Linked DNA regions of Homo sapiens: region 1 is linked to region 2. Evidence: fine-mapped expression QTL. A gene starts in region 2. The other region holds a variant in brackets. All regions are shown on one strand. Distances are between the middles of the regions. Region 1 overlaps ACTN4 (actinin alpha 4). Region 2 holds the start of CAPN12 (calpain 12).

Region 1 (5,000 bases), 42 kb before region 2:
GAGCCCGACCTGTTCATTCCACACCACCGAGCCTGGTGCTCAGTCATGTTTGTGTGACTGAGTGAGCCGGCGGCGGGCTGAGGCGCTTTTGTCTGGTGTGCGTACTGGTCTCCCTTGAGGCAGCTTGGGGGTGTGGAAAAAGCACATGTTGCCAAAATTGACAGACCTGGGTTCAAATCCAAGCTCTGCCACTTACCGCCTGGATGGTCTTGTGATGGGTCATTAACCACCCCGAGCCTCAGTTTCCTCACATCTGCCTCCCGGGGTCACTGTAAGGATCAGAAACAATGTGTGTATCGGCCATGTACGGTGTGTGTCGGCGAGTGCTCCGTGGCAGCTGCGGTTCTCCTGAGGTCAGAGCTGCGGCCCTGCAGGTGTGTGGAGAGAGCCCCGACAGCCAGGCTGACTCTGCGCACTGTCCTTTGTTCTGCTTCCCCAGACCTTCACGGCATGGTGCAACTCCCACCTGCGGAAGGCAGGCACACAGATCGAGAACATTGATGAGGACTTCCGAGACGGGCTCAAGCTCATGCTGCTCCTGGAGGTCATATCAGGTGAGACTCCCAGCCACGCAGTGCGGCCGAGCCCTGGCACAGGTGCTCTGCCACAGCGGTCCCCAGAGACCCTGCCCACCCAGCTGTCCCATTGCTCCTGGGGAGGAGAGGGCACCCCTTAATAGCTGCACGGTGGTCTGATGGGTGGGGCCAGAGTGGCCTGGTGGGCCAGCAGAGGAACCTGCTTTTGGAGAACAGAGGAGACTCTAAAGCCTCTCTCCCTCTCGCCCTCTCTCCCTTTCTCTCTCTCTGTCTCGCCCCCTCTTTTCTCTTTGTGCACTTCTCAGGGGAGCGGTTACCTAAGCCGGAGCGGGGGAAGATGAGAGTGCACAAAATCAACAATGTGAACAAAGCGCTGGACTTTATTGCCAGCAAAGGCGTCAAGCTGGTCTCCATCGGGGCAGAAGGTGAGCTGGAGGTGGGGCAGCGAGGGTCCTGCTCGGTTTCTGACCTTTAGGCTCTGAAGCACAACATCTGCATCCTGAAGAGAAGTTTTGTTGGTGGCAGGGCGCTTGGGGCACTCAGAGCCCCAGTACATACTCAGCAGTGATCACAACAACTGCTCTTGATATGATGCTGGGCCCACAAGCTCCCCCAAACCCTTGGAAAAATCCGGTGGGCGCAGTCCAAATCTAGGAAGTGCAACCCACCCAACCACGGGGGCGACGGCTTCTGCAGGGGGAGGAATGGTTTTGACTCGGACTCAGGTCGCCCTCACTGGTTCTCCTTGTGCCAGGCTCAGCAGACAGTGACAAACATGTGCCATGGCCTCTCTCTGTACCAGGAACACCTTTCTCATTATGCCCTGCCCGGTATCAGAGAAGGACTGGAGGCCCCATGTCAGGCATTGGGACAGGGAGTGCACGGCCAAAGGTCAGTGCCTAGACTTTGCCCTGTGTGCATGGGCTTGGAGAATTTTGCCTCTGACCACCCCAGGATCCTCCTGGGCCCCACGTAGATAACCAGGACCACAGTCCACTACCTGCAGGCCCTCACTAGAGCAGCAGGCTCTCAGCAGGGGCCCCTGGGTTGAGCTCCCAGGCGCTTTTAGAGACAGGCGAGGCCTGATGGAGCCCCAGCAGCATGAGCTCGCAGTCCACTCATTAGTCAGAGTAAGATTTCTTCACCCTGACATCCATGTTGTCCCAGCTTCTAGAAAAACAAAGTAAACTAATTGCCGTTAATGACAGGGCTCTGAGAGTTTGGCCAAGACTCCGGGCCAGAATGTGTGTGCTGAGTTCCAAGGCTCTGCCCCGGCCCAGGACCTCTGCGATGAGGGGTGCCAAGCCTTGCATGCCACAGTCGAGGTGGTTGGTGTTTGTTTAAAAAAATCACAACCCAAAAATTCAGTCAGGCCCTGAGATTTTCTGTCCTTGCATGGGTCTTTCCTCCAGGCTCTGTTCCAGCCTTCTGCTTCTCACAGCTGCATTTATTTTGCTCAAATGCTAGTCTGTAAATACAGAAGGGGTTAGAGGAGAGACCCATGTCAGTCATCAGTTTTCATTTGGAGAAAAACTTGGTCTAAAAATGTTCTCTGTTCATGCCCAAATTGGTTCACTCCCAATCCCTGTGACTGTGGGGCCTTGGAACAAAGCCTAATGGAGGCGTTCCTGGGGCTCAAGGCACCTGAGAACCCCGCCCCACCCTGTCCCCCTGTCCTTCCACATGATTGGGCATTCGCGGGAGCATTGGCTTCCCGTGGGGGTGATGAGAGGGGCCGGAGGCACAGCTGCAGGTCAGAGAAGCAGCTGGTGGATGTGTCATGAGAAACGCCATCCTCCTCTCCTCACCGGAACTCCATAAGCCCTCCGTTACCAGCTGCACCTGTACTTGCTGAGCCGGGGAGCTGCGGCCTTGCCCAGCTCTGCAGGCCCGGCCCTCAGGAGGTGCACAGAATAGATTTCCTGAGGCTCGAGCTGCCTCGCTGCACTAAGGGGCAGGTGGTGCTGCTCAGTTTCTGGGTCTGGGGCTCTGAACCCTAGGACAGGGTGGACACTGGGTCCCTCCCCTGTCTCTGGGCAGCAGAATGAGCATATTTCCTCCTCTCAAAACCCGAAAGCTGTGGCTCATGGACACCCCCTTCCTCTGGGTGTGTCCCCGGGGGAAGGTGAGCCCCATCTTCTCTGTGACCTCTCCACCTGCTTCCAAGCAAGCCTGCCCTGGAGTATTCTGCTCAGAGGTCAGTGAGCAGGGTCTCCTGTGGTGTCCTGGGCCTCCAGCTCTGCAGTTAGCTTTGGAACTCACCCCTGTGCCCAGCCCTTCCCCGAGAGTGCTTGCAGCAGTGGCGCCCCTCTGTCTTCTTTGGAAGCCACTCCATCATGCCCCTTGCATATGG[C/T]GTGTTGACAAGTTGGGAGGACTGCCCTAGGCACGGCTGGCTGATGGACTCTGGGATGAGGCACTGCCTTCTCTCACCCAGCCGCAGACACACAGCTGTCCTGGGCCTTGCAGAGATGATTTTTCTCTTAAGTTACTGAGGCTGAAGAAGGTGTGGTCCAAGCCCTTCTTTTGAGAAGTTTCAGCAATTTTTTTTTTTTTTTTTTTGAGATGGAATCTCACTCTTGTCACCTAGGCTGGAGTGCAATGGTGCAATCTCAGCTCACTGCAACCTCTGCCTCCCGGGCTCAAGCAATTCTCCTGCCTCAGCCTCCAGAGTAGCTGGGATTACAAGCACCCGCCACCACGCCAGGCTAATTTTGTGTTTTTAGTAGAGACGGGGCTTCACCATCTTGGCCGGGCTGGTCTCGAACTCCTGACCTCAGGCGATCCACACCTGCCTCAGCCTCCCAAATTGCTGGGACTAAACAGGCGTGAGCCACCACAGCCGGCCGCAAATGTTTGTTTTTAGGTTAGTTCAGAAAGCGTGCAGTCTGGCCTCAGGCCCGTGCTCTCCCCTTCCTGACAACACAGCAGCCATGCTTGTTCCTCACTGGCCTTCCAGGCACTGGATCCAGTGGTGGTCAGAGCAGCCCCGCCCTCACGAGGGCAGGCAGACAGTGAACAAGTAAACAGCCCGACCAACATGTGATTTCACTAGTGATGCCTTGGGGCAGCACAGGGGCCAGGGAGAGGAACTGGGTGGCGGGTTGGGGAGCTCCTTGGGACGGGCAGTCAGGGAAGCCACCACGAGAGGTGACACAAGCAGAAGCTTACACGATGAGAAGGACCAGCCAGTTGAGGGTCGCAGGCTAGGGGCGTGCTTTGTGAGTGGACAGAGCGTATCAAAGCAAGAAAGAGCCTGGCTTGCCCAGAGGATGCAGCTAGAGAATTCCAGCAGGATGGCAGGGCCTGGGCCTTCAGGGCAAGCCCTTTCCCTGTGGGCCAGGCATGGTGGCTCACACCTGCAATCCCAGCACTTTGGGAGGCCAAGGCAGGAAGATCACTTGAGCAGGAGTTTGAGACCAGCTTGGGTAACATAATAAGACCCAGCCTCTACAAAAAGTTTAAAAACTAGCAAGATGTTGTGGCATGCGTCTGTGGTCCCAGCTACTCGGGAGACTGAGGCAGAAGGATTGCTTGAGCCCAGGCAGTCAAGGCTGCAGTGAGCTATGACTACACCATTGCACTCCAGCCAGCCAGACCCTGTCTCAAAAGAAGGAAACCAACCATGCTCGCTGCTGTGTCGATGTGGATTATGGGCGGGAAGGGTACATAGGAGGCAGCCGCATTGAGCTCTGGAGATGACAGTGGCTTGGTGGAGAGTGTCGGCAGTAGGATTGGAAGGAAGTGGACAGATTCACAATAAACAATAATGTAGTGCACATTTGCTGACTGCGAGATGAAAAAGACCACCTTTGCCCTGAGAGTGGGGGCCCGGGGTGCCCCCCTGTAGTCAGGAGGTACGCAGATTACGGCAGAAATGTACAGAGCACTGAGAGTTGAGAGAGGTGTGAACAGAGGCCACACGCCTGGGACCAGCCTCTTGGAGGAGCGGTTTTTTGAGTTGGGTCAGGAGAAGGAGCTGGCTGCGGGGCCAGGGACCCTTGTGGCCAGAAGCCTGCAGGCGCTCAGCAGCAGGAGGCTCTGGGACAGTGCTGCCTAGAGACTGTTCCCTGCATTTTCTCCTGAGGGAGGTGGAGGAGGACAGGCCTGGGAGATGCAACCAGGGGGTGGTTTGGAGCCTTTCTCTAGATGGGGCTGGAAGGCCACCTTCAGGTTGGGCGGAGGAGCCTCACTCTGGTTTTAACGACCTTCTGCCCTCTGCCCCCTTCCCTGTGTGCAGAGATTGTGGACGGCAACGCAAAGATGACCCTGGGAATGATCTGGACCATCATCCTTAGGTTCGCCATCCAGGACATCTCCGTGGAAGGTGACAGCCACCTGTACTGCCCCCGCTTCCCACCTGAGTCAGGGCGGGTTAGAGGAGAGCTGAAGTGTGATCTTCATGCTTCAAGCCTCTTCCTGTTTCCTTGGGGTCACTCACAGGGCCTGGCCCTTGCAGGGGTAGTC
Region 2 (5,506 bases):
CATGGTGGTGCGCTCCTGTAATCCCAGCTAGTCGGGAGGCTGAGACAGGAGAATCGCTGGAACCTGGGAGGCAGAGGTTGCAGTGAGCCAAGATCGCGCTACTGCACTCCAGCCTGGGCGACAGAGTGAGTGAGACTCCGTCTCAAAAAAAAAGAAAAAAAAAAAAAACATGAAGTTGCTCAGGTGATGTTGTGATATGAGGGTTCTGGCGGTTGTCACTTGGTTTGGGATTCTTGGTGGGGTGTTTGGAGGATTGCAGAGCTTGGGGGACTCTGGGTCCCCCTGTGGCTTGATGCCTGCTGTGGGGACTTAGGGCTGCAGCTGGTTGGAACTGGGGTCCTCACTTGGCGTAGGCCTTCTCCAGGAGTGGGGCCCAGAACTCATTCCGCTGTTCCGAGCGCACGAACATCAGCTTCCCCTCACGCACGGGCAGCCTGTCATCCACCACGACGTCCATCCAGCGGCCAAACTGCCAGAGCTGGTGGGAGAAGATGCAGGGCCGGACTCGGCTTCCAACCTCCAACCCTGCCTGGGCCCTGCCTCTGCTGTGCCAGTCCCAGAGTCAGGAATTACAGCCCCAAGTCAACGTTAACTATGAAATCCATATGGCTGGCCGGGTGCGGTGGCTCACATCTGTAATCCCAGCACTTTGGGAGGCCGAGGCGGATGGATCACGAGGTCAGGAATTCGAGACCAGCCTGGCTAAGATGGTGAAATACCATCTCTACTAAAAATAAGAAAAAATTAGCTGGGCATGATGGCGGGTGCCTGTAATCCCAGCTACTCAGGAGGCTGAGGCAGAGAATTGCTTGAACCTGGGGGCGGGGCGAAGGTTGCAGTGAGCCGAGATTGTGCCACTGCACTCCAGCCTGGATGACAGAGTGAGATTCCATCTCAAAAAAAAAAAAAAAGAAAAATCCATATCACCAAGTCACCATGGGGGAAACGGAGGCATGGGCAGAGGAACTGAGCTGTACCTGGAAGTGGAAGACGCCTGCGTAGCCATGCTGGAAATCCTGTCCAGGAGGGACCACCCGGCGCAGGAGCCGGGGATACAGAGTAAGGGAGGCGGCAGCTGCAAGGAACCAGCAGTTACCTGGGAGGAGAGGCCAGGATTAGGTGAGGATGGAAGGAGGGAGGCCTGGTGCGGTGGCTCATGCCTCTAATCCCAGCACTTTGGGAGGCCAAGGCAGAAAGATCACGTGAGCCTAGGAGTTCAAGACCAGCCTGGCCAACATGGCAAGACTCCACTACAAGAAAATTTAAAAATTAGCTGGGCATGGTGGCATGCACCTGTAGTCCCAGCTACTTGGGAGGCTGAGGCAGGAAGATTGCTTGAGTCCAGGAGGTTAAGGCTGCAGTGAGCTATGATGGTGCCACTGTATTCCAGAATGGGTGACAGAGTGAGACCCCATCTCAAAAAAAAAAAAAAAAAAAAAAGGAAGGAAGGAAGGAGGGAGGAGGGAGAGAGAGGCCTAGGGAGAGAAGAGACTGAGGAGGGATCCAGGGGCCGGGAGTGGGTGGACAAAGGGATGGAGCTGTCAGGATCTCAGCTGAAACTAGCTGGATCTGAGGACTCCAGGTGGGTTCAGGGTCTCACCCAGGCTCCCCTGACACACGTCTGTGCGGCTCATGTCTTCACAGATGAACTTCGGCTCAGCACAGAACTCCTGTGGGTGGTGGGGGATTCCAGGCCTCAGCCTGAGAAAGCGAGGAAAGGTCTCATCCAGAGGAGTGAGGGCCTCCAAGCCCATGAAAGGCCTGGAAGCCTGTGGGCAGGAGCATGGCTTCCCTGGGTCTCCAGAAGTTGTGCTGAGCCAGTCCCATGGTAGCCCCCTCCTCCCTCAGACCCGGGAGTCCAGGCCCAGCCCCTCCTCCCTCAGACCCAGGAGTCCATGTCCCGAGCCCCTCCTCCCTCAGACCCAGGAGTCCAGGCCCAGCCCCTCCTCCCTCAGACCCAGGAGTCCAGGTCCCGAGCCCCTCCTCCCTCAGACCCAGGAGTCCAGGCCCAGCCCCTCCTCCCTCAGACCCAGGAGTCCAGGTCCCGAGCCCCTCCTCCCTCAGACCCAAGAATCCAGGTCCCCAGCCCCTCCTCCCTCAGACCCAGGAGTCCAGGTCCAGCCCCTCCTCCCTCAGACCCCGGAGTCCAGGTCCCCAGCCCCCTCTTCCCTCAGACCCAGGTGTCCAGGCCTTGGCCTCTCCTCCCTCAGATCCAGAAGTCCAGGTCCAAGCCCCCTCCTCCCTCAGACCCAGGAGTCCAGGTCCCCAGCCCCTCCTCCCTCAGACCCAAGAGTCCAGGCCCAGCCCTTCCTCCCTCAGACCCAGGAGTCCAGGCCCAGCCCCTCCTCCCTCAGACCTAAGAGTCCAGGTCTCGAGCCCCTCCTCCCTCAGACCAGGGAGTCCAGGCCCCCAGCCTTCCTTCCTCAGACCCAGGAGTCCATGCCTCCAGCCCCTCCTCCCTCAGACCCCAGAGCCCAGACCCCAGCCACACTTTACATGGGGCCTCATCCATTTCACGCCTTTGGCCTTCTCCGAGTCCGGCCCCAGCTGGTCATAGCCAAGGGCATCAGGGCCAGCAGGGAAGTAAGGGTCGCGGAACAGGATCCCCGAATCCAGGCAGGCTGCCCGAATTGCCTCATAGCTCTGGCCCCGAAAAAGCTGCAGGCGCCCGGCTCCGACCCCAGCCTCCTCATCCACGAGCTGGATGGTGACCCTCCCACTGCTGGATGCCATCTGGACACTGGCCTCACAAGCCGGCACCAGGCCCTTTAACCTCCTGAGTCACGGGGGCGGGGCCTCTCTTCCATTGGAGCCCCAGTGGGGTCTTTAGGCAATGAGGAGCCTTCCCTCGTTAATATTAATTGATGGTTTGGGGTGCTGGGGAGCAGGGACGCCTCTTCAGTAGCTTTCTTCCCAGGGCGTGGGGCCTTCAGTTGTGGCCAAGGTAGCAGCTTAATGGGCTTGGCCAGCAGCAGGAGAGAAGGCGGGCAGAGCTGAGGGAGGACCGGCTGCCGCTGTCAGAGCACCAAGAAGGAGGTCAGTGTGGGGGTGAGCTTCTGCCTACTTATGCCTGTGGGGCTGGGGAAGGAGGCGGGTTTACCTCGGTGTCTCTATCTCTCAGACTGCCTCTCTCCCCCTCCCTCTGACAGTTTCTCTCTCCCCGCCTTCATGTTTCTTCTCCATCAGTTTCTGGAGTGCAGTGGCACGATCTCAGCTCACTGCAACCTCCGCCTTCTAGGTTCAAGTGATTCTCCTGCCTCAGCCTCCCAAGTAGCTGGGATTACAGGCTCGTGTCACCATGCCCAGCTAATTTTTGTATTTTTTGTTAGAGAAGGGATTTTACCATGTTGACCAGGCTGGTCTTGAACTCCTGGCCTCAAGCAATCCGCCCACCTTGGCCTCCCAAAGTGCTGGGATTACAGACGTGAGCCACTGTGCCTGGTCAGGTTTTGTTAATTAAAAAAAATTTTTTTTAAAGTAGAGACAGAGGGGTGGCGGGGGGCGGTCCCATATGTTCCCCAGGCTGGTCTTGAACTGCTGGCCTCAAGTGATCCTCCTGCTTCAGCAGCCTCCCAGAGAGCTGGGATTACAGATGTGAGCTACTGTGCCTGGCCCTTTCTTGTTTTTTGTTTCTGGCAATATTTGTGTCTCTGTATTTCCCCAACTCCACCCCTCTCCCCACCCCACCCTCTTTTTTTTTTTTTTTTTTTTTTTGTAGAGATGGGGCGGGGATCTCACTTTGTTGCCCAGACTGGTCTCGAACTCCTGGGCTCAAGTGATCCTCCCCGCTTGGCCTCCCAAAGTGTTGGGATTACAGGCGTGAATCACTATGCCTGTCCCCTCTCTCTTTGTGTCTCTTTCAGCGTGTGTCTGTTCCTCTCTGTACCTGTCAGACCCAGGAGTCCAGGCCCCCAGCCCCTCCTCCTTCAGACCCTGTCAGTGTACCTTGTGTCTGCCTCCCTGTCTCTTCCTCTCCATCTTTCTGTCTGTCCCTGTAACCCATATGTGGCTCCTCCATCATCCACCGAGGGACCCTGAGCTCCCCTCCGCTCACGCCCCCTAAGCCCTCAGGATGCGCCTCCTCCCCTCCCGGACAAGGTAGACTCAGCCTGCTTGCCCAGGGAGGCTGACCCTGGAGGGATGGCTCTGTACCTCTCCTGTGCTGGGAGCCATCTGGTGACCATGATGCCCTGCCCTGGCCCACGCCACTCAGAGTCTGGATGGAGCAGTATTTCCCCCAAAGGACTCTGGAGCCATTGGAGGAAATGGGAGAAACAGGTACGGAGATGCCAGAGCCTCAGCAGTGCTGGTCCCAGCAGACCTTCCACCCTCGTTGAGGGTGTCTGCTGCCCTCCCAGAGCCTTGTCACCTCCACGCCACTCAGATGTCCCTCAAGCCTTTTGGCCTTCTTCCCTCCAAGTGGACCCACAAATATTGTCCAAGCCACCCACGTACACGGCTACCAAAAGTGGGTTACAAAACAGGCTTTCTGGCTGGGCGTGGTGGCTCATGCCTGTAATCCCAGCACTTTGGGAGGCCGAGGCAGGCAGATCACCTGAGGTCAGGAGTTCGAGACCAGCCAGGCCAATGTAGTGAAACTCCGTCTCTACTAAAATACAAAAATTAGCCGGACATAGTTGCGGGCACCTGTAATCCCAGCTACTCAGAAGGCTGAGGCAGGAGAACCGCTTGAATCTGGGAGGCGGAGGTTGCAGTGAGCCGAGATTGTGCCACTGCACTCCAGCCTGGGCAACAGGGCAAGACTGCATCTCAAAAAACCCCCCAAAACAGGGCCGGGCATGGTGGCTCATGCCCGTAATCCCAGCACTTTGGGAGGCTGAGGTGGGCAGAACACTTGAGGCCAGGAGTTCAAGACCAGCCTGGCCAACATGGTGAAACACCATCTCTATTAAAAATACAAAAATTAGGCTGGACGCGGTAGTTTACTACGCCTGTAATCCCAGCACTTTGGGAGGCCGAGACGGGCGGGTCAGGAGTTCCAGACCAGCCTGGCCAACATGGTGAAACCCCATCTCTACTAAAAAATACAAAAAAATTAGCTGGGTGTGGTGGCACGCACCTGTAATCCCAGCTACTCAGGAGGCTGAGGTAGGAGAATCGCTTGAACCCGAGAGGTGGAGGTTTCAGTGAGCCAAGACTGCACCACTGCACTCCAGCCTCGGCAAGAGAGCAAAACTCCATCTCAAAAAAAAAAAAAAAAAGGCCGGGCACGGTGGCTCAAGCCTGTAATCCCAGCAGCACTTTGGGAGGCCAAAGCAGGCAGATCACGAGGTCAGGAGATCAAGACCATCCTGGCTAACACGGTGAAACCCCATCTCTACTACAAAAAATACAAAAAATTAGCCAGGCATGGTGGCGGCCACCTGTAGTCCCAGCTACTCGGGAGGCTGAGGCAGGAGAATGACGTGGACCCAGGAGGCGAAGCTTGCAGTGAGCCGCCACTGCACTCCAGCCTGGTTGACAGAGCAAGACTCTGTCTCAAAAA

The links.
Region 1: its variant is fine-mapped to the expression of CAPN12 in whole blood (TOPMed, PIP 0.96).

What each region holds. Positions count from the first base shown.
Region 1 is chr19:38,700,161-38,705,160 of GRCh38, forward strand. ACTN4 (actinin alpha 4) reads left to right here. Exons shown (of 21, transcript NM_004924.6): 2 at 440-554; 3 at 842-961; 4 at 4,774-4,860. LOC107985291 (a long non-coding RNA gene) reads right to left here. Exons shown (of 2, transcript XR_001753937.2): 2 at 1,764-2,004. Among named protein-coding and RNA genes, the nearest start is that of CAPN12, 42 kb to the right of the region's middle. RefSeq lists enhancers at 2,345-2,845, 4,455-5,000. The variant C/T (reference allele first, on the strand shown) is at 2,890.
Region 2 is chr19:38,741,433-38,746,938 of GRCh38, forward strand. CAPN12 (calpain 12) reads right to left here and starts at 3,042. Exons shown (of 21, transcript NM_144691.4): 1 at 2,497-3,042; 2 at 1,601-1,670; 3 at 978-1,096; 4 at 345-478. The coding sequence starts at 2,733.